Linked DNA regions of Homo sapiens. The protein of the gene in region 1 interacts with the protein of each later gene in a pairwise test. Each region holds a gene or a part of one and is shown in the gene's direction. Other genes may lie near its edges.

What was found.
Region 2: the proteins of CCDC136 (region 1) and PKN2 interact in a two-hybrid assay, tested with the Homo sapiens proteins (one large-scale study listed by BioGRID and IntAct).
Region 3: the proteins of CCDC136 (region 1) and CEP95 interact in a two-hybrid assay, tested with the Homo sapiens proteins (one large-scale study listed by BioGRID).
Region 4: the proteins of CCDC136 (region 1) and ZNF35 interact in a two-hybrid assay, tested with the Homo sapiens proteins (one large-scale study listed by BioGRID).
Region 5: the proteins of CCDC136 (region 1) and ZNF223 interact in a two-hybrid assay, tested with the Homo sapiens proteins (one large-scale study listed by BioGRID).
Region 6: the proteins of CCDC136 (region 1) and DYNC1I2 interact in a two-hybrid assay, tested with the Homo sapiens proteins (one large-scale study listed by BioGRID).
Region 7: the proteins of CCDC136 (region 1) and ZNF599 interact in a two-hybrid assay, tested with the Homo sapiens proteins (one large-scale study listed by BioGRID).

What each region holds. Positions count from the first base shown.
Region 1 is NC_000007.14:128,801,922-128,806,011, forward strand, and holds part of CCDC136 (coiled-coil domain-containing protein 136), read left to right. Parts: intron 1-2,728; coding exon 2,729-2,840; intron 2,841-3,437; coding exon 3,438-3,603; intron 3,604-3,839; coding exon 3,840-3,980; intron 3,981-4,090. UniProt on the Homo sapiens protein: May play a role in acrosome formation in spermatogenesis and in fertilization.
Region 2 is NC_000001.11:88,827,126-88,831,215, forward strand, and holds part of PKN2 (serine/threonine-protein kinase N2), read left to right. Parts: intron 1-1,355; coding exon 1,356-1,498; intron 1,499-4,090. UniProt on the Homo sapiens protein: PKC-related serine/threonine-protein kinase and Rho/Rac effector protein that participates in specific signal transduction responses in the cell.
Region 3 is NC_000017.11:64,520,149-64,524,238, forward strand, and holds part of CEP95 (centrosomal protein of 95 kDa), read left to right. Parts: intron 1-1,253; coding exon 1,254-1,379; coding exon of another isoform or gene 1,380-1,395; intron 1,396-2,553; coding exon 2,554-2,747; intron 2,748-4,090.
Region 4 is NC_000003.12:44,651,230-44,655,319, forward strand, and holds part of ZNF35 (zinc finger protein 35), read left to right. Parts: coding exon 1-30; intron 31-1,327; coding exon 1,328-1,472; intron 1,473-4,090. UniProt on the Homo sapiens protein: May be involved in transcriptional regulation. Involved in cell differentiation and/or proliferation.
Region 5 is NC_000019.10:44,050,455-44,055,323, forward strand, and holds the start of ZNF223 (zinc finger protein 223), read left to right. Parts: upstream 1-1,581; 5' UTR 1,582-1,741; exon of another isoform or gene 1,742-2,303; intron 2,304-4,654; 5' UTR 4,655-4,722; coding exon 4,723-4,737; intron 4,738-4,869. UniProt on the Homo sapiens protein: May be involved in transcriptional regulation.
Region 6 is NC_000002.12:171,742,505-171,746,594, forward strand, and holds part of DYNC1I2 (cytoplasmic dynein 1 intermediate chain 2), read left to right. Parts: intron 1-1,544; coding exon 1,545-1,685; intron 1,686-3,297; coding exon 3,298-3,423; intron 3,424-4,090. UniProt on the Homo sapiens protein: Acts as one of several non-catalytic accessory components of the cytoplasmic dynein 1 complex that are thought to be involved in linking dynein to cargos and to adapter proteins that regulate dynein function.
Region 7 is NC_000019.10:34,766,523-34,770,612, reverse strand, and holds part of ZNF599 (zinc finger protein 599), read left to right. Parts: intron 1-1,057; coding exon 1,058-1,184; intron 1,185-3,201; coding exon 3,202-3,297; intron 3,298-4,090. UniProt on the Homo sapiens protein: May be involved in transcriptional regulation.

The sequences.
Region 1 (4,090 bases):
GACTATGGGAAAACCCTTCCTGGGAAAATTTCCAGCTCTAGGATGGGCAAAGAGGGACCTGTCACCTTGGGAAACTCTTCCTGCTGCCCTGGCATCATGGTGCTTTGCCTGGAATGCTTTATAGGGGGCCTCTGGCCCTGCTTCCAGGTGCAGGGATGCTAATTCTTAGGTTCCATTAGCTCTCCTCAAAATAGAAGCTTTGGGGGGCAACAAATCGGAACAAAAGACAGCTAGAGAAGAAAAGTTATTCTGAGTGATACATGAGGTACCCAAAAGCCTAGAGCCCTGCTTTCAGACAGTGAGTCTCCCAGCTAGTTGCTAGGATTCATGACATCAGAGAGTTTGCCTTTATTCTGAGGCTAGATTTATAATCTGAGTATAATGGAGGTCCTATATTTGGCCAGGTCAAGCAGAGGCAATCAACAAGGAATCAAAGAACTGCAAGTTTTTCCAGCTGTATCAAGCCTCTCAGAAGAGCCTTTAGATTAAATGGTGCTGGGAGAAGAAGGTTGGCACAGTGGGAAGGCTTGGGCTGGAGTCAAACAGACCTGAGTTCAGTATCTCAGCTCCACTAATTAGCAGGATGAACGTAGGAGGTCTGGTTATGGTCTTTCTCTGAGCCTGTTTCTATATCCAGGATATGAAATCAAAATTGGTTAATAAAACCTTATAGCTAGATGGGATCCTGAAACAGGAAAAGGACCTTAGGGAAAATGTAGAGAAATCCAAGTAAACTATGGAGTTTAGTTAATAGTAATGTATCAATATTTGATTCCTTAGTCATGACAGGTATATCATGGTAATGTAAGATGTTGACAATTAGGGAAATTGGGTGAGAACCCTCCCAGGAAACTCCGTACTACCTTTGCAACTTTTTTGTAAATCTAAAACTATTCTAAAATTCAAAGTTTATTTAAAGAAGAAAAAAACCTTACAGAGCTATTTTGGGAATTAAATGAAATGTGAAGCATGTTGAAATCACTTGCACACTTACCAAATCTGAGGCTGAAACTATCAAGTCTAATGCTTAGCGCATGGTTAGTTTTCATTAAAGATTAGTTTCCTTCCTCCCTTATATGGTAATCTGCAGTATTCTAAGGAATTCTGATTAGAATTAAGAGGAAACATTAGAAGTTACTTTTAGGGTGTTGAATCTTCCAGCAGGTAAGATAGGTCTTGTGTTCTAATTAGAGCAAGTTAGTGTTCTTTAAATATCAGTAGAATTAATGTTCTAAGAGACATAATTCTTTTTCAATTTTTTGCTAGTGGACACAGAGTCTTGCTCTGTTACCCAGGCTGGTCTCGAACTCCTGGGCTCTAATGATCCTTCTACCTTGGCCTTCCAAAATGTTGGGATCACAGGTGTAAACCACTGCACCCGGCCAACATAATTCTTAGTCATGAAGCAACAAAACAGATACAGGTGTTTGTATCATCACAGCCTTAAAAGTGGGCATGGTGACTCATGCCTGTACTCCCACCACTTTGGGAGGCCGAGGCAGGTGGATCACTTGAGCCCAGGAATTTGAAACCAGCCTGGGCAATGTGGCGGAACCCCATCTTTACAAAAAAATTCAAAAATTAGCCAGGCTTGGTGGTGTGTGCCTGTAGTCACAGGTACTTGGGAGGCCGAGGTGGGAGGATCACCTGAGTCCAGGGAGGTCAAGGATGCAGTGAGCCATGACTGTGCCACTGCACTCTGGTCTGGATGGCAGAGTAAGACTATCTCAAAACAAAACAAAACCAAAAAGGAAAAAGTATAGGTATAGGTGACTGGTGCTTAGAGACATGTGCTGGAGTATTTCAACCGGATCTCTTCTAATGCTTGAGGATGATATGTGAGTCTGGTTAGGATGGGCCTGTCAGCAGATAAAAGGCCATTAGAAAGAATTCCTTTTTTTTTTTTTTTTTGAGACAGAGTCTCACTCTGTCACCCAGGCTGGAGTGCAGTGGCACAGTCTTGGCTCACTGTAACCTCTGCCTCCAGGGTTTAAGCAATTCTCCTACTTCAACCTCCTGAGTAGCTGGGACTACAGGCATGCACCGCCACGCCTGGTTACTTTTTGTATTTTTAGTAGAGACAGGGGTTTTGCCATATTGGCCAGGCTGGTCTCAAACTCCTGACCTCAAGTGATCTGCCCACCTCGGCCTCCCAAAGTGTTGGGATTACAGGCTTGAGCCACTACACCTGGCAAGAATTCTTTACCACATCCAGACCAATGTATTTGGTGTGGGAATAAAGAACATAAAAGGAAACTCAGAATGCCTGAAAGGCAGGTACTGGCAGTCACATCTGACAGTTCACATCTCTCAGCTTTTTGTACTAAAAGCATAATTGGAAGGTAATCATAAACAGTTGAATGGAAATTTTACATACAGTAAACTTTTGAAAGTTTTTACATACAGTAAAAATTTGAAAGTTAATTAAACTTTCAAAAATTGCTAAAAGTTCAAGAGTCTGCTTCGGTTGAGGCTTTGAAGATGAGCACACAGGGTAAATCTTCAGGGCAGATGAGAAGAAGGACAGCTATTGGGAAGAGGAGAAAGACTCACTGCACTGTGGAATTTCCTGGGCCCTGTCTTCTAAGCCTCTACCTTTTTTCTGTCTTTAGAAAAAGAGAAGCTCTTTAACCTTCTGCTCTCAGGTTTCAAGACAGGAAAACTGGGGGCTGGTCATCAGTGCTTTCCTTTCCTCCCGGTCTCATCTCTCTCTGCCTGTCCTCTGCAGAAGAACTGCAGGAGCTGCGGGAACGCTACCATTTCCTGAATGAGGAATACCGGGCCCTGCAGGAGAGCAACAGCAGCCTCACGGGGCAGCTTGCAGATCTGGAGAGTGAGAGGTACAGCTGTCTCTGGAGAGTGAGAGGTCATGGGGTTCCACAGGACTCTGCCTTACCTTGGGCTTTCCCTGAAGGCAGATGCCAGGGCAGTGAGCGTTCCTTTGCTCCTGGAGACCCAGTCCTTTCCATGGTTTCCAAAGGATACAGATACCACCTACAAGCAGACATGGGGATCCGACCCAATTATCTCAAGACTAGAGGGAGTGAGTTCTGAAGTTTACTTCTGCTCTAGGCACTGGGTTCTGGTTTGCTCTGCCCTAAAGTGGATCAGAAGAGATTCTTTTATTGTCTGCATAGACTTGTTTCAGTCTAATGGCAGGCACAATGCTTCCAGATTGGAGTGGGCTTGACTAGGCCTAGCCTCAAAACTAACTGGACTGGCACTCTAAGGGTCTCCCAGAGCCAAACACACCTTTGCAGATTGAGGGGCTGGAGACTTTCTGTAGTCTTTTAAGCATGTTTATCTGAGCGGTGAGTCACAATAGAAGGCCCCTTACTATCTTTGGCCTAAAATGAAGGTATCAGGACAAAGCCTGCATGGCTGGTGATGCCAGGCAGAACTCCCTTCAAGCATAGCTCTGCGGTTCTGAATTGCAGGACACAGAGAGCAACAGAGAGATGGCTGCAGTCCCAAACACTGAGTATGACGTCAGCAGAGTCTCAGACTTCAGAAATGGATTTCTTAGAGCCTGATCCTGAAATGCAGTTGTTACGGCAGCAGCTACGGGATGCTGAAGAGCAGATGCATGGCATGAAGAACAAGGTAGGGCACAGAGGGTGGGGAAGGCAGGCACATTTCTTGTCTTTCTTTCACCTTCTCCCAGCCTGTGGTAGAAACATCTCCATAGGCATCCACTGTGGAGGGAGATAGTACTCTGGGGTCTCACTTGCCTGATGTAAATCTTCCAGTCAAAGAGCGCCATGCTTTCCCCAAGCTTGTTCTTGGAGCATATGTGGTATCTGTAGTAAACAAGCCTCCCTGTTCCATTTCCCACATAGTGTCAGGAATTGTGTTGTGAGTTGGAAGAGCTACAGCATCATCGCCAGGTCAGTGAGGAGGAGCAGAGGCGGCTGCAGAGGGAGCTCAAGTGTGCTCAGAATGAGGTGCTTCGGTTTCAGACCTCCCACAGTGTCACCCAGGTAAACACTGCCCGGGGAGGCATCTGGGGTGGGGGCAGAAGGGCCTCATGGAGGGGCTGCTTCAACCGGGGTGGGCACAGTGAGTATGGCTGTGCTCTGCTGACTCTTGC
Region 2 (4,090 bases), on another chromosome or scaffold:
TAAAAAGATGACACTTATGACAAGTTTTTAACACTTTGGAATACATAGAGATAATATCTTCAATATGTAGACTATATATTTGATTAACATATTAATAAATTATGAGGAACATATATTTAAAAACTAGTTAGCCAAAATGTTAATACAGGCTGAGTATCCCTTATCCAAAATGCTTAGAATGAGAAATGTTTTGAATTTCAGATTTATTTGGATTTTGGAATATTTGCATATATAAATAATGACATATCTTGAGGCCAAGACCCAAGTCTAAACACAAAATTTATATATGTTTCATATATACCTTATACATAGCCTGAAGGTAAATTTATATAATATTTTTAATAATTTTGTGCATGAAACTAATCTTAAGTACTTGCGGAATTCTCTATGGCATCATGTTGGTGCCCAAAAAGTTTCAGATTTTGAAGCATTTTAGATTTTGGATTTTTGGATTAGGGATGTTCAACCTGTACTCTCCCTTCCCTCCCCTTCCCTTCCCTTCCCTTCCCTTCCCTCCCCTCTTCTCCCCTCCCCTCCCGTCCCCTCCTCTCTCTCTCTCTATATATAATATATATTGAGATATATATATGTTTTTTGTTTGTTTGTTTTTTGAGACAGAGTTTTGCTCTTGTCACCCAGGCTGGAGTGCAATGACACAATCTCAGCTCACTGCAGCCTCCGTCTCCCAAGTTCAAGCAGTTCTCCTGCCTCAACCTCCCGAGTAGCTGAGATTACAGGCGGGAGCCACCATGCCCGGCTAATTTTTGTTTTTGTTTTTTTTGTAGAGACGGGTTTCATCATGTTGGCCAGGCTGGTCTTGAACTCCTGACCTCAGGTGATCCACCCGCCTCGGCCTCCCAAAGTGCCGTGATTACAAGCATGAGCCACTGCACACGGCCCTATCTCTCTGTATTATATGACACATTTGGTCAGCTTCTGATTATCCAAGGGTTTGCTTTTTGGTATTTTTGAAACTTATTTTTTTTAGAATGTTGATTTTATAATGAAGTAAATAAACTTATTTAAGATTGAATTGGAAAGATAATGGAACTTCACAATCAGTTCATTTTGTTATAATTTCTTAGCTCCCTTGTAATGACAAGAAGAAAAAGTAACTGAAAAGAAACATGGATATCTTATTTCTATTTACCCATTAATTAGACAGTATAGTTGCTATTGCAGTTTTTGCTATACCAGTCCTTACTGTTTTCTTGAAATGTCTTAGATATGTCTGAATTTGTTCACCATGCACAAATGTGCAACTTTAATTTTGCCTCCCAAAGATAGCTTTGATTTTTTTTTTATGCTAGATTTGTTTTCTTTGCTAACAAATGTTTACATTTTATCTTTTCCAGGAATGGGATATGGAGATAGAACAAGCACATTTTGTGGCACTCCTGAATTTCTTGCCCCAGAAGTATTAACAGAAACTTCTTATACAAGGGCTGTAGATTGGTGGGGCCTTGGCGTGCTTATATATGAAATGCTTGTTGGTGAGGTAAGCAGTGTGAAATAGGTAAGAGAACAGAGGAAGGATGATTGAAATAATAAAGCATGTCATTTATAAAACCACCTAATACTGTCTTCAGTATGAGTGGAATTTAAGTTTTATAAATATTTATAGTATACTAGTAGTCAGCTATCTTTCTGTAATACCTTCAATAAAGATTTTTATGTGGTTTGTGGAATGCACTATCAGTGCTTTGAAAATAGTTCCTTGTATTTCAGTATTGTACTTTTATTATGTTTTCTGATTTTAAGACATAGTCATTTTATAGGGAATGGAATAACAGAAAGACTAATAAAAGGAATGTACTCTGTACCTGTAAAGAAAAGCCCACTATAGATTGGTCAGAAATAAATGTTACCTTCGACTTCCTCCAGACTTCCGTCTGAGCAACACACTCTGCATCCTTGCTTCACCGGGAAACTACTGAAGTTCCTGGGGAAGCAAAGTAGAATTTCGTAAGAACAAAATGGATGGAGAGAGGAGAAAACCTATGGTAGCTGTGAAGGCCCTGATGCCATGTATGTCAAATTGATATCATCCGATGGCCATGAATTTATTGTAAAAACAGAACGTACATTAACATCAGCACGATAAAAGCCATGTTGAGTGGCCCAGGTCAATTTGCTGAGAATGAAACCAATGAGGTCAATTTGAGAGAGATACCTTCACATGTGCTATCAAAAGTATTCGCTACACCAACAGCTCCACCGAGATTCCTGAATTCCCAGTTGCACCTGAAGTTGCTATAGAACTGCTGATGGCTGTGAACTTCCTAGATTGTTAAATAAAATATAATTTTAAAAAAATGAAAGAAGTGTTACCTTAAAAAATGGTAGAGTTGAAAAAATTCGCATTTTTTCCTACTGTTTTCTGTAGATTAACTTAAATTTCTGAGGATAATTGAGTTGTACATAGAAATTATTACTATTAGGAAACAGTGAGTTATGTTAAGGCAATAATAGGAGACTAATAATTTATTATGTTATAAATTGTTAGAAATGTTGAATTGGGATGAAATTGGGAAAGAGTAAATCTTTTAATAAGTAATTGAAGATTACTTGAAGGGACTTGAACTGGAGATGCAAGAAAAATTATTTTAAGGGATTGGTTCATTATTCTGCAGTTTCCCCATGCCAGCAACCTCCCTTGTACACTTGTAAGTTTGAAGAAGTTAGTGCTGAATGAACAAATTATCAAATTGAATATCAGAAATTTCTAAAGTTTTGTTCTATGCTTGTCATTTATTGGCACTTACCCCAAACAAATGGTTTTAGTTTCGCCGGATGGATAACCCCTTTTGGTATGTCAATTTGAAGTGGATTCCTTGGAAAAGGAGGAGAAGTATGGCTAATTAAAATTTATCATGTGCTAAGCACTGTACTGTATGCCTTAAATATTAGTTCATTTAATTTTGCAACAGCCTTTAATAAGCTCAGTACTGATCTTCTGCCCATTTTCGGAGGTGTAAATAGAGACACAAAGAGATTAATGACTTGCTTAAAGTCACACAGCTCTCATATGGTGGAGCTGGAATTTTAACCTTGTCACTCTGGCTCCAGAGCATATCTAAAGCATTATGCTTTGCTGCTCCAGGACAGGATCTTCAATTCATCCAGCCTTGTTTCTGTTCTTAAGACTAGTGGTCCAGATCTGAATTTTTCACCTCTATTTAGAAAAGCTGTTGTGCAGTGTTTAGGTTGGAAAGATTTATTTTAGCTCCAGTCCACAGTGGCTTTTACTTTCTGAGAGTGCCAGAAGTTCTCATAAAATAGTTAATCTGCTGTAAGCTCTGGCATACTTGAACTCCTCCCCACCCCCTTCCTTTATTTTAACAGTAACATTTTGGAGGGTTTTTTTGGTTTTGTTTCATGTAGTATTCAAGTAAGTATGAGATTTATGAGATTCAATTATGTGCTTGCTTAAAATTTACTCTCCATATTAGAGATGACATGTGCAAAATATGAGTTTATTACAAAATACTGTAGAATTAATCCAGTTGAATCTACTCCCTCCTATTATAAAGCCACTGGAGGGTTTGGCAGAAAACAAGGAAGCTCCTGTTTCATGTTTTTTAAAAGAGCTAATTGATTGAGCTCTTAATTACCTAGAAGATAAAAGACAGTGGATCTGGCTATTTCTTCACAGTTGTTTCTTGCAATTTCTCTTTAGTATCTCCACAAGAGGGTAGCTGGGAAAAGAACTAAACTTAAAACTCATCAGTCTACTTCATAATTTTATAGCATTAGTGAAATGCTAGTGATAACTCCTTTTTAACTATGATGAAAGTAAGGTGTGGCTAAAGTTTATGTCAGATTTCTCTATTATTACAAATAATTGTAAACTCACCGGATATATTATACATGTTCAGATTTGTATACTTCTACTAGTTTTGATTACTGGAAAGACTCCAGGAATAAACAAACATCGCAAGTCCCCTTTTTCCTGTCTCAGATGGGAGTGAAGATACCAGAGAGATTGAACAGAATGCTGGACATGGTTTTAGATACTGTCAGTGTTGACATCTGAACAGACTATTGGTTTCCTTTAAATGTGCTGAAAACACATTTGTTAGCTTTCAGT
Region 3 (4,090 bases), on another chromosome or scaffold:
TGATTGGGAATGGAAGGGATGGTGATTGCAGAAACGGGTTCTGTGATGTCAAGTGCTATGTAAAAAAGATGTTACTGTAAAATGAATTACTTATTTTAACATTATAAGTAGAGAGGGGAATTGTGTTTAAGAGTAATGCAATTAAGGCAAAGGAAAAAAGATTCAGAGAGATGCCTGGCCAAGGTGTTTGGGTTTGATGTGATAAAAGGGCTTATGGCAGCTTCCTTTCATATTGAGATTTAAAGTGTCAGATAACTGTCATATACATTCACAGGCATCTAATTTAAGCTTCAATATATGGACCATAGTCTTTTTTTTTTTTTTTTTTTGACACTAGGTCTTGCTCTGTCACCCAGGGTGGAGTGCGGTGGCGCAATCTCGGCTCACTGCAACCTCTGCCTCAGCCTCTCAAGCGGCTGGGATTACAAGTATGTGCCACATGCCCAGCTGATTTTTGTATTTTTAGTAGAGATGGGGTTTCGCCATATTGGCTAAGCTGGTCTTGAACTAATAACCTCAAGTGATCTGCCTGCCTTGGCCTCCCAAAGTACTGAGATTACAGGTATGAGCCACTGCGCTTGGCCTGGACCATGAGTCCATGTTTCTGGTACTAGCTAAGACCCTAACTCTGGTGTCTATTCATACCAAGACATGTCCATAAAACAGCCAGCATTTCCGTAACTCTGGCATCTATTTTTCTAAAGCTAAATAATGAAACATTGTATGAAACTTTGCTTTTAAATTGTATAAATGATTCTGGATTACAAAATGGCATCTTACTTTCTGATAGCAATTAAAAATAATTGATATTATGGCCCGTCACAGTGGCTCACGCCTGTAATCCCAGTACTTTGGGAGGCTGAGGTGGGCGGATCACCTGAGGTAGGAGTTCGAGACCAGCCTGGCCAACATAGTGAAACCCTGTCACAATACAAAAAATTAGCCAGGCATGGTGGCGGGTGCCTGTAGTCCCAGCTACTCTGGAGGCTGAGGCAGGAGAATTGCTTGAACCTGGAAGGTGGAGGTTGCAGTGCAGCGAGATCACGCCATTGCACTGCAGCCTGGCGACAAGAGGGAAATGCTGTCTGAAAAAGAAAAATAATAATTGGTATTTTGAGCAGTTGGACCAACATTATTTCGTTCAACATTATTTAATATTTGTTTCCTGAGTACAAAACTCTTGGCTTTTAGTATAATGTTCAGCAAACTATTTTGATAGTTAAAAATTTTACCTTTAATATTTTCTTTCCTAGGTGCTCAATGTCCTAATGAAATGCTGTCTAAAAAAGCCTTAGCCTCACCAAGTTCTAAATCACATGAAGATATGTTGTACCCTCCTAGTGTTTTGTCCAAGAGTAGGACATCCTTTGTTGAAGACAGTGAGTTGTAATGGATGTTAGTTCTTTACTGCTGATGATCATTCTTGGGGCAATTGTTGTTGCCATTAGCCTTTTTACTTTTATTGCTGTATATGAGATCCTTTTTGGTCTTACATGATCTTACTTGTAAATGTTTGCTATTAATTATGGTATCTGAATTCTGCTTAACATGGTCTTTGGTTGCATATTTTTGCATCCACTATTTTATTATCTAAATTCTCACCACTTACCTTTTTTTTTTAATGGGACAGAGTCTCTGACACATTAGTACATCTATTGGTGGTCTTCATATTATTGGTAAATAACAAAGTATAGTAACTGGAAAAACATTCTTTTTTTATTGTTTCGAGACAGAGTCTAGCTCTGTTGCCCAGGCTGGAGTGCAGTGGCATGATCTCGGCTCACTGCAACCTCCGCCTCCTGGGTTCAAGCGATTCTCCTGCCTCAGCCTCCCAAGTAGCTGGGATTATAGGCGCTTGCTACCACGCCCAGCTAACTTATTTTTAGTAGAGATGGGGTTTCACCATGTTGGCCAGGCTGGTCTCGAACTCATGACCTCGTGATCCGCCTGCCTCAGCCTCCCAAATTGCTGAGATTACAAGCGTGAGCTCCCGCACCCGGCCTGGAAAAATCATTCTTGTTTCTTATTATCATCTCTGGAATTTTCATATGGTAGTAATACATAAAAATATTACTGCCTAACTGGTTTTGTAACGTGGACGAACCATAATTCACATAACATAACATTCTTCAAGCCATTTAAGTTGCTTCCAGTTTTTAAAGTAACTTTCAGGGAACAGTTTTATGATAATAACATTAAAATTACATCCGGGGCCAGTCATGGTAGTTCACACTTGTAATCCCAGCACTTTGGGAGGCCGAGGCAGGAGGATCACTTGAGCCCAGGAGTTGGAGACCAGCCTGGGCAACATAGCGAGACCTCATCTCTACTTTTTTTAAAAATTAAAAAAAAAAAATTACATCCTAATTTAATTAGATCCCTGTGTGCTGAGGCTATATCCCTGGTTTAATTATTTTTTTATGTGCTTTGTCTTAAGTTTAAAAAATATTTCTAATGTATGTGAACATGTTTATATAGGTATGTATGTATGTATATAAAATGGTTTATTTCTTAGAATTGCATCGTAATATCCACTTTAATTTGTCTTACTAGCGGAAACCCTTTCTGTGAGTGGGATTCCAAATGCTAGGAAGCTAGGGGAGCCTATCCGAGCAGCTATTCCTTTACATCCACCCTACCACCCTTCAGAGCCTCGAGCACCCTGCCCCATAGGAAAAGAATACTTGCATTCAAGTCACTGCTCCCCAGCCGTAAATTCTACTGGAGAGCATACGGAATTTTCTGGGGTAAGTGGAAAAGCTTACTTTCAGTTGGCTAGAAGTACACTTGTATGTATGTCTGTGTGTGTGTTGGTAATTGATTAGAAGGCCGTGTGTGTGTATGTGTATTGGTGAAGTCTTTATTCTTTGTCAAGGAAGCCCCTATATTTAAAGAAGTCTGCTAGAATTGTCAAGCATATTGCACTAGTCAAAGCATCGTACTCCTTAAAATTTGCCTCTGTATACACCTGCACATTCTTGTTCTAGGAAGATAGGAGAAAAACGAATGCATATAAAGGGAAATAATAAGAGCCAACACATAGTGAATGTTTATGTTGTGCCAGGCGCAGTTCTGGATACTTTAGGGGTATTGAATAATTTACTGCCCATAACAACTCTGGAGTAGCTACTATATTTATTTATTGTTGGGAAGCTGATGTAGAGAGGGCAAGGTTACACAGCAATTACAGAGTCAGGATTTGAACTTGGACATTCTGGCTTCAGAGTCCATATTGTGTCCGTAATTTAATAATTTCAAATTTAGAAAACACAGAGTGGAAAAGAAAATAACCATCCATGCATATTCCCATTATCCACCATGAACCACTGTTAACATATTGATCTATTTGGTTCAATTGCAGTGAGCCAAGATCACGCCACTGCGCTCCAGCCTGGGTGACAGAGTAAGACTTCATCTCAAAAAAAAAAAAGAAAAAACCTTTTTTATATAGTCATCCTGTCCTTATCTTTCTAAAAAGAACAGGACTGGGTTCGGTGGCTCACACCCATAATCCCAGCACTTTGGGAGGCTCATGTGAGTGCCAGAGTTTGAGACCACCCTGGGAAACATAGTGAGACCTTGTCTCTGCTAAAAATAGAAAATTAGCCTGGAGTGGTGGTGCATGCCTGTGATCTTAGCTACTTAGTAGGCTGAGGCAGGAGGATCACTTGAGCCCAGGAGCTTCAGTGAGCTGTGACCACACCACTGCATTCCAGCCTGGGCAGCAGAGCAAGACCCTGTCTCAAAAAGAAAAAAATAAAATAAGAAAAACAACAGGCAGGTATGTACACAGGGTAGATATATAAACAGTGATACATTTTCATTATTTAAACATTCAAGCAATGCATTAAAAGTACAGAGATGAAATAAGCATTATTAACAATAGGTGACCACATTCTCAACATTCTGTGCATCTAAACAGGAGAGGGATTAGATAAAAAGAGGTGTTAAAATGGAGTCATAAGATAATGTTTACTTTTGGGGGAATCATAGTGGGGGTTTTAGAGATATTTCTGAGTTGGTAATACTCTGTTTCTTGACCTGGGTGGCAGTTAAAGGGGAGTGTTTATTTTCAAATAATTCATTGAGC
Region 4 (4,090 bases), on another chromosome or scaffold:
GGCCTTGATGGATCAGAAGAGGAAGAAAAGGTAAACGGGGGCCTGAGAGGAAGAGGGGAGGAGATACTTGAAGACCTCAAGTAGTTTAAGAGGGGACTCTGCCCCTCTGCTTCCACACCTGGAGTCTTATTTCTTGGGTACAATTCTAGCTTCCAGTCTTTTGTAATAGGATAGAAACATTCCCTTCTGATTGATGTGACATTCAGTACTTTCTGTAAACCAGTGGTTCTCAAATTTTGCTACACAGAACCTGGAGAGCTTTTTATAAAATCTTGATGTCCATACTGTATTCTATTCCTATTAAATCAGAATCCGTGGTCCAGGCACAGTGGCTCACACCTGTAATCCCAGCACTTTGGAGGCCAAGGCGGGAGGATCACTTGAGGTCAGGAGTTCAAGACCAGCCTGAGCAACATTGCACACCTCGTGTTTTGCAATGCCGAAATACAAAAAATTAGCTTGGCATGGTGGCACGTGCCTGTAGTCTCAGCTACTTGGGAGGCTGAGGTGGGAGGATTGATTGAGCCTTGGAGGCATAGGTTGCAGTGAGCCGAATTCATGCCACTGCACTCTAGCCTGGGCAATAGAGTGAGACCCTGCCTCAAAAAAAAAAAAAAAAGAATCTAAGGGTGGGACCTGGGTATCCATGTTTTTTTAAAACTCTTCAGGTAATTTCAGTCAGGTTTTGACAATGCTAACCAGAGCTTCTAAAACTTTAATGTGCATAGGAATCACCTAGGGGTTCTTGTTAAAACAGTTAAAGTTCAGATTCTGATTGAGGATGTCTGGGGGTGGTCTGAGATTCTGTGTTCTTTGTTTGTTTGTTTTGCAAGCTTCCAGGTGATGCAGATACTGCTGCTGATCTTTGCACCACACTTTGATTCATGAGGCTGTACACTGTGCTGTCCTTAATGTTTCAAACACACCCCTTACCATTACTAGTCAAATGAGGGCAGAGGTTCCCCCAGAGCCTTTCTGTAATAATATCATCAAAACCTTGCTGCTTTGATCTTTAGATCCCACAAAAGTTCACTCTGAAAATTCTTCCCATATGCTCTCTCCTCTTATCATGTACTCACTGGTAAGCTAGGTTTAGATTCTGGAGTGAGCAGTGAGGTGCAATCAAAGTAATAAGGAAGAAAGTAGCTAGCTTGTTTCTCTGCCCAACTCACCCTGGGGGTTGGAGGAGACTCTGGCTTCCTTTTCTGTTTTTAAAAATTGTTCTATGGCCTCCAGGAATAGATAATTATGTTCTCATTCTCAAAATTGTAACCACACTACCCCCTACCACCAGTTCCCTCTTAAACATGTGCCTGCTTGTCTCTAGGGTCAGAACATATCCTGGGATATGGCGGTAGTCCTGAAAGCAACTCAGGAGGCACCTGCTGCTTCAACCCTTGGCAGCTACTCATTACCAGGGACTCTGGCCAAGAGTGAGATACTGGAGACTCATGGGACCATGAACTTTCTAGGTATGGTTCAGTTCCCTGATTCTGAATCTGACCATTGGGGTTTCTCAAAATCTTTTCAGAGACTGGTGGGCATCCAGTCTCCTAGGTTGACCAACAGAGTACTGAGGTATTGAAAGTGTCCAGGAAAGCTGGAAAGAGGAATGCTGAAATGCCTGTGCATTTGTCATGGGAAGTGGCTTATTTTGCACACAGGCTCAAGACACTAGACAAACATAGGTGTTGTGCTGAAACCTGATCAACACCAATATGGTACCAGGTTCAAGAGGCTGAAGAAGAGACCCAGAGCCAGCAAACAACATAGAATTTTACTAGGTGTTTATGTACAGGGTAGACAGTCTAGAGGCAGTGGACTGGGCACGGGAGAACCACATGGCCCAGTGGCACAGGCTGGACAGGAGAGCTGCAACTGCTTGCAAAAGGCATGCGGTTTATGTCGCATTTTCACTTAACACCCTCTCCCTAATGACCTCCACCTGGCAGCCTTAATTTAACCCAAAACAAGGGGCCTCAATCCCCTTTAAGGCCCGCATTCCACTGAAAGGGGTGGGGAATGGATAAGGAATGGATCTCCAGGTTGGCCACTTCTGGATTCCTTTGCTTGGAACTCCAAACTATATTCAGGTGTGTCTGCCATACAGGATCATTCTCAGGGTATGCTTAAGTTGTTGCCATCAGGTGTATTTACCATACAATAGGTGAATTCCAAACTCACTTTTTAGTGATATTTATTGTTCAATGAGTTTCATCTCTGTGCACACATGTAGGCACATGTCCTTTTTATACGCTTTGTAGTTAGCATAGGTTGGTGAGCCTGCAAGAGATGCTAGCCGAGGTAGGAACAGTCAACTTTTGTGGTGATTTTGAGCAAATGCCCTGGAGATGTTCTGTTTTCATAGATCTTTGTGCAAATTATAGAGGATTTTGAGCAGCTGTGTTAACCATAATGATGTTCAAAACTAGGTCTTCGTGAAGGGTACTGATGGCTTATCAACTTGTTCTCTCTAAGCTAGGACTAGAGAAAGGGTAGTATGTTCTAAAGATCTCACTGGCAGTGGCAGAAGCTTGCCTGTGGAGGAGTGACATATAAGTGAGGGTCAAGAATGCAGTAGCCATGAGTCCTGTGTTTCAAAGCACTTACTGGCTGATTGCCAAGCCCTATTCTTTTTATGAGTCTGCCAGATATTGAATATTTTGAACCCACTCTCCTCCCTAACCAGTTCCTCAGGCATCTGGGGACCAAGTCACTTTCTTAAACCAGTGCTATGGGGAAGACAAGGATCTCCACCTAGATTTTCTTGTCTCATATTTAATTATTCCCAAACTCTTAGCAGCTTCTGTTCCCCACTTTCTGCTTTGTGTTCCATTCTCTCTGGTGCATTCGCGTGCATGTCACTTATTTTCTGTCTCTGAGCTTTATCAGCCATTCATAGTCTTAACCCCAACAGCTGCACCTCATCAGGAATGGGCTCCCTTTTCCTACTTTGCCTCTTACCTCAAGACCATGTTCATACCCAAGACTTAGTATTTTGTGCTGCCAGCTATTTCCATGGCGATGGCAGGAACACTGCCAACACTATTTCCATGGCGATGTCAGCAGGCGATGGTGGGAACACTGAGCTCTATGTGTGAGAGATATCTGAGTGGGGTTGCTGCCCTGCCTGTAATAACTCTGTGACCTTGAGTAAGTCCCTTCTCTCTCTGGACCTCCATTTCCTGTTCTACAAATTGGGTGTGTTCATTAAGTACAGGATTTGTTGGCGGCCTCCTTCCTATGTGTCAGGCAGCGTGATAGGTGCTGGAGATACAGAAATGAATAAGACACAACCTTGCTCTTTTTTTAGCTGAAGGAGAACAGTTTCATCTTCATGATGAAATTGTATAATATACATGAAAGTGCTTTGGAAATTGTGATGTGTTACTGGGTTTTTAATGTCTGAGCAAGTTTTAACTGTAGTTTTCATATTTTAATTAATGTTGAATTTATTAAAGTTTATTCATTTAAAAACCAATTTTTAAGCCATTAAGCATAACTTTTTACTTCATCCATACATCTAGAAATATTTGTATAAAAGTGAGAACATTTGTATTTTTTCTTTAACTTATGTTCAGTTAAGCTTCAAATTTTACAGATTAAATTTTTTAAACATTTTGGCCGGGCGCAGTGGCTCAAGCCTGTAATCCTAGCACTTTGGGAGGCGGAGGCGGGTGAATCACCTGATATCAGGAGTTCGAGACCAGCCTGGCCAACATGGTGAAACCCTGTCTCTACTAAAAATTCAAAAATTAGCCAGGCATGGTGGTGCGTGCCTATAGTCCCAGCTACTTGGGAAGCTGAAGCAGGAGAATCGCTTGAACCCGGGAGACAGAGGTTGCAGTGAGCCAAGATTGCACCACTGCACTCCAGCCTGGGCAATAGAGCAAGACTCTGTCTAAAAAAATAAATTAATTAAAAATTTTAAACATTTAATTCTACCTGCTTATCAAATTTCTTTATATAAAACATAATTACAAATTTGATATCTTTAGTTCTTTAAAACATTCCAAACACCTAACTGGGCAGACTTACAAATCTTGTAAATAAAATCTTGATAAACACAGCTGTTATAAATCTAATGAAT
Region 5 (4,869 bases), on another chromosome or scaffold:
GTAACTGAGAACCACCATTTTTCTAAGAGACAGCTTATTTATTTCTCTCTCTTTTCTCATTCCCTTAGTTCCCCACTTCCTATGTAGCCCTTTAAAAATGCAAATATAGACTTTTACCTCCCCTTCACCAGACACTTCCTACAGGGAAAGTTCATCTAACTGTGTGCTCCAAGCCAGAACTCTCCTCCAGAATTAACAGTCAATTTACAAACTAAAGCATGCTGGCCTCTGAACTCTCACTCACCAGGAGGTTGCCTGAAGAGACAACAGTTGAAAGCGTGCCTGCTACTCTCTCCCTTCTGGTTACAACTTATTTCTGCCCATGAAAAAGCCAGCTCAACTGCCTAATAGATAAGGCACCAAGCCAGCACACAGACCCCTTCCCTCTTCCTCCCCTACCTTTTAAAAGTGCCTGCTTTCTGCTCTAAAAGCCAAGCCGTGCACTTAAAGACAACACCTGTGCTACTTCCCCTACGCTAGCTCTAGAATAAATCACTTTCTTTATACCAGATCTCCCTCTTGTTAACTGGACGTTGCAAACGGGAAGCCACTGATCTACTTTTCAGTTACAGGGGCTGATGCTTTCCTGGCTTCTCATTGCCCCTCCCAACCCATTCTACCTGGCTCATTCTTTAAACCAGTGGTCCCCAACCGTTTTAGCACCATGGACCGGTTTTGTGGAAGACAATTTTTCCACGGACTGGGGAATGGTTTCGGGATGAAACTGTTCCACCTCAGCCATTAGATTCTCATAAGGAGCGCCTGACCTAGATCCTTCGCACGCACAGTTCACAATAGGATCCGCGCTCCTATGAGAATGTAATGCTGGGCTGATCTCACAGGAGGTGGAGCTCAGGCCATAATGCTCCCTCACCTGCCGCTCACTTCCTGCTGTGCCGCCCGGTTCCTAACAGTCAGTGGACCGGTACAGGTCTGTGGCCCTGGAGTTGGATATCCTTGCTTTAAACCCTGAGCCTCCTTTCAGCCATCTGACGGCTCAACAGTCACTCTATCTAGCTCCTTGAATATTGTATCTCCTCGCTTGTTCCCTGTCCAAGAACACTCCTGTCAATCATGGGAGACATTTAGACTTCATAAATTCTTTCTATTCAATATTTTCGCTCGAGGACTCTGGGAAGGACAACTGTCAGGGTAACAGTCTGCATTCCCCACCAGGAACCTGGGGCTATGAAATTCGTTCCCCGTGGGTGTTGCGGGAAGTGTAATCGAGGAGCACCATGTAGTCGCAACACTTGAGCCTAAAGGGTGAGGTGATGGACATTTTCCTTTTGCATCTGAGGCTCTGCAGTCCAGACACCTTGCGGGATTCCTGATACTTCAGCTCAGGTAGGCGTTTCCGGAGAATTCTGGGAAGAGTAGTCCATTTTACGGGAAGTGTAGTCCACTGGCTCGTGGAACACTGGGTATTTTGGCTCTGGCAGGTGAACCGTTGAATTCTGGGAACGATAGTCCAGACACTCTGCGGAGTCCCGGGCCCTTTGGCTCAGGGGGGCGGGTCCGGGGAATTCTGGGGAGTGGAGTCCAGACACTCTGGCGCAGAGAGGACACTTCCGGTCTCCTAGTCTGAGGTTCCTGCTTTAATGACCGGGGTAGTTTGAGCCATTTCTGCGTCTTGCAGGACATTTTGAACGAACCCCCTTTGCTTGAGGCTCGCAACCACCCGATGATCGATGATCGTCTCAGGGGAAAAGAAGCCTTGGCGAAGAGCAGAGGTTTAGAGGTGCGAGGGCGGGGAGGGTGTTTATTGTTCCCGTCAGCGGAGCCTTCTGGCGTCGGGGGGCTTTGCTCGCCTCCCGGGGGGTGGGATTGGGGTGGCCTTGTGTGCCCTGCTCTGAGGGTTTCCAGGACTTTGACCTCGCTCAGTCCGCCTCCCTACGTATGCAGTGTGTACACTCTTTCTCGCAGTGTGATGTGGAATGTTAATGTCTCTGTACTTCCCATTGCTGTTCTTTAAAATGGTGCTTATAGGGTCATCCTAATAGAATTGTTTTGCGAATTGAAAGAGATAATACAAATGAAAGCCTTAAAGTTGTCCCTGTCACTTGGTGAGTGGTCTCTTGTTGCCTGATATTTTAAAACGTTTGATATCATTTCAAAGCTATAGAAAAATTGCAAAAACAGTATAAGAAATTCTCATATACCCTTTACCCAAATTTGCCAAGTGTTTACATTTTTCCTGTTTGCTTTGTTGATGACCATCAACCAAATACCACCAGGAACATACCTGTAACCAGAGACAGCTGATTGGTAGCTTTCTGCAGCAAGGAAGCCCACATACCACGGTAATTGTGGGGTGTCTTGGTAAGAGGCATTTAGGAAGGGCTGGTTATAGGGTTTCACATAACATGGTAGATAATATTGGATATTATGTTAAATAATACTGTTACCGATTACATGTCAGATAGATGTGTTAAAAGAATACTAGTATTTGTAGTGTACTTACTAGATAGTGTTGGATAGCATATTACCTAGCATCATGTTATCTAATCTGCAGTTCCATATACGAATTTGTTAAATTTTTCATTTAAAGTCCTTATGACTGTCCTCTGCCCCACCCTTCACCTATTCAAAGTCCAGTTTATGCGTTGTCTTTAGCTGTCACATTTCCATAGTTGTTCATTTGGAGTTTGATATTGAAGGGGGCCTGCCTCTCCACACCTGTGGGTGTTTCTCACAAGGTGGAAATGAGAAACTGAGAAAAGAAATAAGACACAGACACAAAGTATAGAGGAAGAAAAGTGGGCCCAGGGGACCGGCGCTCAGCAAATGAGGACCTGTACCGGCACTGGTCTCTGAGTTCCCTCAGTATTTATTGATCACTATCTCTACTATCTTGGTGAGGGGGATGTGGAAGGACTATAGGGTAATGGTGGGGAGAGGGTCAGCCGGAAAACATGTGAGCAAAGGACTCTGTCATAAATAAGTTTAAGGAAAGGAGTTGTGCCTGGATGTGCACATAGGCCAGATTTATGTGTGACTTTACACAAACATCTCAGTGCAGTAAAGACCAGTATTGCCGCCAGTATGTCTCACCTCCAGCCATAAGGCGGTTTTCTCCTATCTCAGTAAATAGAATGTACGATTGGGTTTTATACCGAGACATTCCATTCCCAGGGATGAGCAGGAGACAGATGCCTTCCTCTTACCTCAACTGCAAAGAGGCCTTCCTCTTTCACTAATCCTCCTCAGCACAGACCCCTTATGGGTGTCGGGCTGGGGGACGGTCAGGTCTTTCCCTTCCCACGAGGCCATCTCTCAGGCTGTCTCAGTGGGTGGAAACCTTGGACAATGCCCAGGCTTTCTTGGGCAGAGGTCCCTGTGGCCTTCCGCAGTGTATGGTGTCCCTGGTTAATCGAGACTGGAGAATGGCAATGACTTTTACCAAGCATACTGCCTGCAAACACATTTTTACCAAAGCACATCCTGCACAGCCCTAAATCCATTAAACCTTGAGTCAATACAACACATGTTTCTGCGAGCACAGGGTTGGGGCTAGGGTTACAGATTAACAGCATCTCAAGGCAGAAGAATTTTTCTTAGTACAGATCAAAATGGAGTTTCTCATGTCTTCCTTTTTCTACGTAGACACAGTAACAGCCTGATCTCTTTTTCTTTCCCCTACAGATATATTTCACATTTAGGTTTAGATTATACATTGTTGGTGGGGATTCCACAGGAGTGTTAAGATGCCCTTTTCTTTTTTTTTTTTTTTGTTTGAGACAGTTTTGCTCTTGTCACCCAGGCTGGGGTACAATGGTGCAATAGGATGCCCTTTTCATTGTAACATAACAAGGTCCAAGTGATGTTCGTTTGTCCCTTCATTGGTGATCTCAGCTTTGTCACTGGCCAAGAAGATGTCTTTCAGATTTTTCCACTCTTATGTTACTTTTTTTTAAATTATGAAGTTTCTTATGGGAAAATACATTATTAGTGGGCATTTTCTTGTAAAAAAGAGCTTCCATTTCTCCTCTATTGGTTCATTGATTTGTTCAACTATAAATATTCTATCAATGTGGACTCAGAATCCAGTCTTATTGATTCTAATGATATGTGCATTAACAGTTTTTTTTTTAAACTCTAGGTTTATTTTAGTTATAGCATTCACCCATTTCAGGTATACAAGTCAGTTCAGTGGTCTTTAGGAACTTTGAAGTGGGGTAATCATCATCATAATTCAGCCGAGATCACTTTCATCCCCCAGTTGGACTCCTCATGCCCATTTACTTTGAACCTCATTCTCAACTCAAATTTAGAACAACTGCTAACCTACTTTCTATTCTATTCTACTTGTCTATTCCAGACATTTCATATAAATGGAATCGTAGGGTCTGTGGGTTTTTGTGACTTGCTTCTTTCATTTACTGTAATGTTTTCAAGGTTCACGGGTGTTGTTGCATGGGTCAGTATTTCATTCCTTTACATTTCCAAATAAGATTCCATTGTATGAATATGCCACAATTTTTCTGTCCCTTTACCTGTAGGAGAGCTTTTTGGTTGTGTGCAATTTGGGGTTAGTATGAATAATGCTGCTGTGAGCGTTCATGTGCTAATTGACAATATGAGTCCTTGTTGGTGGGTGACATCCCTGGCCACCCTTTCATGTCTCTTTTTCTGTCTTCATGGCACTTTCCAGGCACAATTCTGCTTTCCCTGGAACTGTGTCATTCAGGACTCTGCAAATTCCCTAAAGTAGGAGGAAAAATGACCATGTCCAAGGTAAGTAGGACTTGCCTCTCTTACTGTTAAAATTCCATCTCACTACTCAGATTGTTGTGTGTTTTTCTCTGCCCTGGGAAGACTCAAGGAGAACAGCAGGACTTTGAGGATCTCTTGTCACCTGGCTAATTT
Region 6 (4,090 bases), on another chromosome or scaffold:
TTCCCAGCACCATTTCTTGAAAAGACTATTCCTTTCCTATCTAATTTTCTTGACACCACAATAACTTTTATGGAATCTGACTGAGATCCTTTTCTTTGCTATTGTCTACTAGTGAAATGAATTTTTGTGTATTTTTAGGAGGGAGGGAATGGGCAAGGATAACTTTCCTAGTTCATTTTCTAGGTTAAAGCTGTCTCTTCTCTGGCTTTTGCAAAGTGAGAATACATGTACCTTGTGCTTTCTGAGATGTGCCTTTTCTGCTTCTCTCCACCACTTCTGTCTGAACTTACTGCTTTGTCTCTTTTGTCTGGCATTCTACAACTTGGATTCTACTCCCAGCAGTTTCTCTTCTGTGAGACTTTGTCTTGGAAAGGAACTTTGATTTGTTAATTTTGAGAGTTTATAGCACCCAGACTGTACCATGAGAACTTACTTATACTGCACTGTAGTCTGCTTGCATTTACAGTTGACCCTTGAATAATGCAGGGCTTAGGGGTGCCAACGCCTATCCCAGCAGTTCAAAATCCACATATAACTTCTGACTTCCAAAAAACTTAACTACTAATAGCCTACTACTGACCAGAAACCTTTCTGACAACATAAATTGTTGATTAACACATATTTTTTATGTTATATGTATTATATACTGTCATCTTAAGGGCAAGCTAAAGAAATGAAGATGTTAAGAAAATCATAAAGAAGAGAAAATATATTTACTATGCATTAAGTGGATGTGGATCATCATAAAGGTCTTCATCCTTATCATCTTCACAGTTGAGTAGGCTGAGGAGGAAAAGAAAGAGGAAGGGTTGGTTGTGCTGTCCCAGGGGTGGCAGAGGCAGAAGAAAATATGAGTATAAGTGGATCTCTGCAGTTCAAACCTATATGGTTCAAGGGTCAAATGTATTTATAAATGGAATTGTGCCAAACTGCCCCCTAGTTTTTGCTGCTGTTCTCAGATTAGCCCACCACACTGTCCAGTGAGCATCTGCTATGACTGTGAGGTTCTGTTCTCCACCTGTCAGAAGTTCTCGTGCCTTCCTTCATCTTCTTCCCACACAGATACTGATACCATGCAAGTCTTGTAGTTGTGAGAGGTTTGTTTCCACCTGATTTTATTTGGAAGTTTGTCTCCTGATTCTGCTGTAGATGCTGTCTGTGAATCTTTGCTCTTCCTGCCCTCATTGCTTTATCTGAGTTTATGGGGAGAACTAGAGGAGATTTAAAAAGTACACTGCTATTGCTGTTATCTTCCCAGAATCTTCTCATTGACAGATGTTCTTGAAGCATGTTCTATTTCTTTTTTTAAACAGTATGGCATCTACAAGTTAAAAAGAAAATGCAATCAATAGTTGATTCTTAGTTTACAATACCAGGTAATTCTGTAGTGAAACAAATTGTAGGAACTTTTTCTAGGCTGAGTTAAATATCATAAAATGTTATCATACCTGTTGAATGTATGTCATTTTTTTCCCAGTGATAAGTAGTTTAATGATTTGTATGTCATATATGGACTGTGCTAAGAATCAACTTTTCTCTTTCAGAATAACAAGCCTTTGTATTCATTTGAAGATAATGCAGACTATGTTTATGATGTTATGTGGTCACCTACCCACCCAGCCCTGTTTGCCTGTGTGGATGGCATGGGGAGATTGGATTTGTGGAATCTCAATAATGACACAGAGGTGAGCAGGAAAATAACAAAAATTGCATTGAAAAATAGAAAATTGGATATTTATTGAATAATTTGTGAAATTCCTTTTTTTCCAAAGAATGTAAAAGGGTTCTGTGATTGTAGATTCATCACAAAGAACTCAAATAAGCTTTGTACCCTAAATAATAAACAGCATGCTGCGAAGAACTAAAGGGAGAAATAATGTTGCCAGGAGCACTGGGGCATTTCCTTTTACTTCTGAAAAGCACTATCATGTCTCTAATGTCCTGGCAAAGTCTCATTCATAAGATAACTGGGATGTTTTTCATTCATAAGCTAGAAAGCAGATAGTTTCAGACTGTTGAAGTATGTTAACCTTAATTCTGAATTTCTAAATTATCTCTTAGCCTTGATAGCATTGTATATCATCCATAAACATTAATCTTAGCCTGATTTGTTTGAAGGAAGGAAAAATATATTTTGATTTTTGATGAGTTTTTTCTATGAAGGATTGAAAACAGAGTGTTACTATAAAATGAATATAGAAACTATCAGATTTCCTAATTGCTGTACTAAAATCACTTATTAGCCATTAAATTTAATTGCAACTCTTATTTATTTTTAGTCACATGTATTTTTACCAGCTTAGAGAAGCTTAAAAATGTTCTTAGAATTCTATTCTATATTGCTATTAGTAATATAATTAATATTAGCATTTCTGTCAATAACAATTGTTGAGAGAGTCAACTCAGATCTCCCACATCTCTTCCTAGTTAGCTAGAATGGTACCAATTCTGTTTTCTTAATTTGGATTTTAGTCTTAGAGATTTGAAGTTACAATTAAATGTGGATTGAAATTTAATATTTCTTTATAACAATTTTGGTATTCTGTGTATGGGGTTAAATTATTTGGGGATGACTAGTACAAATTAGAAGGATTTTTTTGTCAAATTTCAAAATTTTTTAAAAATTTTATCATACTTTTAGTCTGAATCCAAACACTGAATGTTTGCTCCATGTGTAGCAAATAAAACTCTTCTTCCTTAGCAAAGAAGAGGCACAGTCAGATTCCAGGGAGCTGGTGCCATTGTGTTGGTGCCATCATCCTGGCTATCTCCAGCTAGCTCATGGAACAAGAGGCTTTAGACAGACTCATACTGCACCTTCAGTATGAACCGTTTCTAGGAACACTGAGTCAAATACAGGTTTCAGCTGATAGAGATACATGCTGCACAAGTGATTCTTGTCCTTTACAACTGAACCATAATCTGCTTATGAGGGCTTTTGAAGTGTTTTCTTTTTAAATGGGTTTTGGCCATGTGTTTTCAAACAGCTTGACTTCTTAAAGACATTAAAACAACAAAAAAGGATTCTTTATTCAAGAGAAGACCTTTCAAAATAATGTGTCTAGTCTTCTGAGAATTTTTTATACAAAGACTTATTTTCCCAAACCATTTTCAAGGATCGACTATAATGTCATTCATAATATATCACTGAAGAAGAAGAAAGTTGGGGAAATTCTTACCTGTTTTCATCTTTGTTTTTAAAAATGTAGCCAGCTTGAGAGAAGAATTACTGTTTTACATGTTTATAGAAATCTTGATGAAACTTTTAACACTGTCCTTTATTTTAAATGACTTTAGGTACCAACTGCCAGCATTTCTGTGGAGGGTAATCCTGCTCTTAATCGTGTGAGATGGACCCATTCTGGCAGAGAGATTGCTGTGGGTGATTCTGAAGGACAGATTGTTATATACGATGTGGGAGAGGTATGGGACTCCCTGCCTGTAATTTTGACACATCGATTTAGTTGCATTGTAGTAAAGGCATCTTTGTGGCTAACCCTAGGCTTTGAGGTTTATGAGTTGTTTAAACTATATGGTTGTAAAGATAAAACTTACTTTCTACCACAGAAGCAGCTCTTGAAACATTTTCTTTCTAAACCGAATGTTCTGTTTCCCATGCAACAGATTTTGAGGGTAATACAATAAATACATTGAAAATACCTTGTTTCTTGAAGCATGCATTGCTGGAAATTAGAAATTCTTTGGGGAGAAGTTTGGAGTTATAGGTGGACTTTGGGGTTTTATTGATATTGAAATAAGATTTATTTTTCTGTATTCATTAATTTGGGCCAGGTAGTAGAAACCAAAAGTAGTATCTTTTGAGAACCATCTGTGACTTTATGCAATGTGCATCTTGACTCTTAAGCCTTGATGCAAAGCCACAGTAATGGAATCCAATAGGATGAGCTGCAGCTCTCTCATCTTTGCTGCTCTGATTGGCTGAACACAAAGCCCAGGATGGATTTCCTCTTTTTTAACCCTGGCTAGGGGTTAAAAAAGTGACCTTAGTCACTTTCCTTTGCTATGCCTCATGATTTCTCTCCTCTCTGGATATCCCATGGCCTCTAGCAATTGGATCTGGTGGGAGGTA
Region 7 (4,090 bases), on another chromosome or scaffold:
CAGGAAGAAAAAGAACAGGTTGGCGCTCATTGTGGGATATTCCAGGGAGTCTACAAGTCCCAGCTGCCTGAGGGCAGGGAAACTTTGTTTGAGCTCTCCCAAGCCCTAGGCAGTTGGCACCTCTTCAGGTGCCTCTTCTATGAGGCAAAGGAAGGCTCTGCTCTTCCTTCCATACCTCTGGCAATATTTTCAGGAGTGGCTGAAATTGTTTTAACTGTAAAAATTGTAGGAAGTATTTTTAGCCCTTGTCACTGTGGATTCACTGTGGTGATGGAGGAGTACAGGGGTTACACCCATAGATCCTGGACCCGAGGGATGTGGGTTCAAATCCTGCTTCTGCTCATTAGACATACAACTCTGAGTGACTTGACTCTGAGCCTCAATTTGCTGATTGTGAAATGGAGATGATGACATTTACATCATGGGCTATAGGATGACTATTGAAATTTACACACATTGTAACACATGCTGGGCACTGCAGTGTTTGCTTTATGAACATTTTCTCATTAATTTTCACAACAGTTCGGTGAAGTGGGAACTATTAATGTATTGATGTGGAAATTGGAGCTCCAAGAAATTAAGAGACTTCTCCAAGGTCACACATCTGGCAGGTTGGTTCAAGAGGCTGGATTTAAACTTCAGGAGCCTGATTCCAGACCTGGAGACTTTTAGTTGCTTGAACACAGCATGTGAAGCCCTCAGGTGCAGGCAAACAGTGCAGACCAGTGAGGCTCAGCTGCTGCTGCTGTGATTATTGTTTGAATTATTATTTTTCCCCATTCTTGTAATGTCCTAGGACATTACTGTCTGCTCCTCACAGTCAGATGGGATTATCATTGTCTTGTATCATTTTCCAATGGTTTCCAACATAGGAGGCTTTTCTGTCCCACATCTTTGTATTCTGTCAGCGGCACCATCTGCCTCCACAGAGCCCAGTGGTTCTCAGGAGTTGCTCAGTGGTTCAGGGTCTCTGGACCCTTTGCCAGTAACCAAGAAGTGAGCTGTAATTTCACCTAATAGCTCCACAGCCACCTGTCACCTCTGTTTGACTTCCCAGGCATTAGTATCATTTGAAGACGTGGTTGTGACCTTCACTGGAGAGGAATGGGGGCACCTGGACCTGGCCCAGAGGACCCTGTACCAGGAGGTGATGCTGGAGACCTGCAGGCTCCTGGTCTCACTGGGTAAGACCTCATTACCCTCCCATGTAGGGGACCCACAGCCTCTTTGAATCCACCCTTTCTAGGCATGGCTGGTCCAGGAGCCTCAGAACCCAACCTTCCCTGATCCCTGCAGCCTCAGCACGTTGTGGTCTGACCTCCTCTTGCTGGGTTTCCCTGTGTCTCAATCAAAGATTGTTATGTAAGAAACACAGTCCTCCTCAACACTTTTATCCCACTGTCTAGCACAGCTGGCCTCAGTCTGACATCTTTATCCCAGACTGCCACAAGAGGTAATTGGCCCAGCTTGGTTGAGTCAAATGTCCTCACAGCCCAGTTAGCAGGACCTGTGGATAATGGGAGGTTCTACAAGCAGCGGGTGATTGACACAGACACTAAGAAGGTGTTTGTTATCAGTGCTGCTTATATCTTTTTCAGCAACACAGTCTCAGCTGAAAGGTCTCTTTGGCTCCTAGCACCTGCACAGTTAACCCTTACTTCCTAAGGCCTGTGCCTTGCTCCTCTGCTGCTACAGGAGATGATTATGATTATGGAAAGGGAGCACAGACACATTCTCAAATGGCATGGATGTATGCTATCTGAGAAAGCTGTTCTTTTTTTCTTTTCTCTTTCCTGTCTCTTGAATGTTGAGTGTTGGCTTAGGGCTGAATCTTTAACACTCCCATAGCTGTTGGTGAATTTCCTCCTCAGTAGAAAGAGTAGCCTCAAACTCCTAGCCTCAAGCAGGCAGCAGGAACTTGCTGGGACCTGTTATCATTTTGATTTTGCCATTTTTATAGTAACCTGTCACAGCAAGGTAACTAATATGTGTAAAGTGCTTAGAATAGAGCTGGAAACATAGCAAGTGTTCTGCATGTGTTTGTTACATTTAACAAATTAATAAATACCAAATGCTCTCCCACCTAAACCTTTAATGGACAGTTTGCCCAGAAGTTGGTCTGAGTAGATATGAATGGAGGCCCAAAGTCTCACTTATTCCAGTTGTTCAAATGGTTACCATCGACAGGGCTCTCCCAGTCCTGCGTCCTCACGAGGGATGAGTCATTAATGAAGTAAACGTGGTGTTATTTTATGACAACTGTGATTAGTTGTCGAAAGGAGATGTATGGGGAACAGCATTCCAGGAGGAGGGACCAACATGAGCAGCATCCCTGTGGGAGCAGGGTGCTTGATTCCTTAACAGAGATGAAGGCAGGCCTGATTCCCCTTTAATGCTGCTCATCACCCAGCTCAGTGCCAAGCATATGGCAGAACATTTGCTGAGTGTGCATGTGGCATGTAAGTGTGCGTAATCCTATGGTGAACATTTGCTAAGTGACAGCTGGATGCGTGCCAGGACAAGATTTTCCAGTTGATGCTTCTGGGTCCTGGTGCCTCAGTCATTGACTTCTCTCCAGAGTCTTCTGTCTTAGCCTTCACAGTTGGCAAAATGTGTGTGGCTGCATGTGGAAGAAGACCACCTCCTGCCAGTTTCACCCTGAAAATAATTTCTTACTTTACCTAATGAGAAGCCCTGAGGTGCTGCTGACTCCTGGCTTGGTCAGTGCCAATCCATGCTAACCCAGTTCTCTGTCTGCTTTCTCTCCTTGGTCTAGGGCCCTGGCCAGTATCCTTGTGGGGCAGTAGGCCTCCATGTTCAGCTTCAGTCACTGGCCTGCCTCACACAACTGACTATCAATAGATGCCATTCATCAGGCGATTTAGTCCTGTGTTTTTCAACCATCATGGGCACCAAAATCACCTGGGGAGCTTTAAAAACTACCAGCACTCAGTCCTTCTGCTCAGAGATTTGGTTTAATTTGTTCTGTTTTTGGAACTGGGTGTTGCTAGGTAGTTTTGATGCACAGGGTGGTTGAATCCTACTGACTTAGGTTAATTAGGGAATACTTTTGGTGAGGCAGGGGAGGGCCCTTTCTGGGGTTTCATTGCAGTATGTTAAATATATGTACTCCTTTACACCTCAGACTTTTCTTTTTGTCTTTCCCTGTACACCATACTCCATTTGTTTCTCCATGCACAGGGCATCCTGTTCCCAAACCAGAGCTGATCTATCTACTGGAACATGGACAGGAACTGTGGACAGTGAAGAGAGGCCTCTCCCAAAGCACCTGCGCAGGTTGGTGACTGAGAGTCTGGCAGCGGGTATCAGGGCAGCCTGCAGACCACCCAGGCATCACTGTGTCTGAAATGCCATGGGCAGCTATTTTGTGGTCTTGAGCAGTCATGGAGCCCTTGACCCCATGGTCCCCCGTCTTCCCACTTCTGTCACACACTCTTTGCCTTTATTCAGGTTGGAATATGTTAGGTAGGAGACAGATTCTAGGCTTTAATGATTTGCCACTCACTAGCCTCATGACTCTGGAGAGGTTGTGTGACGTCACTGTGCCTTTGGTATATAAGTTAGGCTGAGTTAATGACCTTCTCTGAAAAATAAACTCCAAAATCATGTGACTCAACAGATTAAGTTTCGTTTTGTTTTGTTTTTTTATCCATGCCATAGCCCAATGTGGGTCAGCAGGAAAGCTGTGTACCCTGTATTTATTTATGGATCACATGCATTCTGTTGTCAATATGCAGCTTTAAGGTTGCCCCGGCCAAGAGGAATGGGAGAGAAGGGCAGTAGTCACTTCCATTAACATTTCATCCACAAGAACTGGGTATTAGGCTACATGTTGTATCAGGCTGGGAAATGTGGTTTAGCTTTTTTATACCCAAGGAGAAGAGCCTATGGGTATAGTGAACATATACTTATCTGATACACTTAGCCTACATTTGAAAGATAGTGATGATAGTTTCTGCATGACTGGGTTGTTTGGGAATGTGATCACATAGCAGGAAACTGCCTAGCACACTGCCTGACCCGGAGTGGCTCAACAGAAGTTACTTGTAAGTAATATTAATGTAGTGTT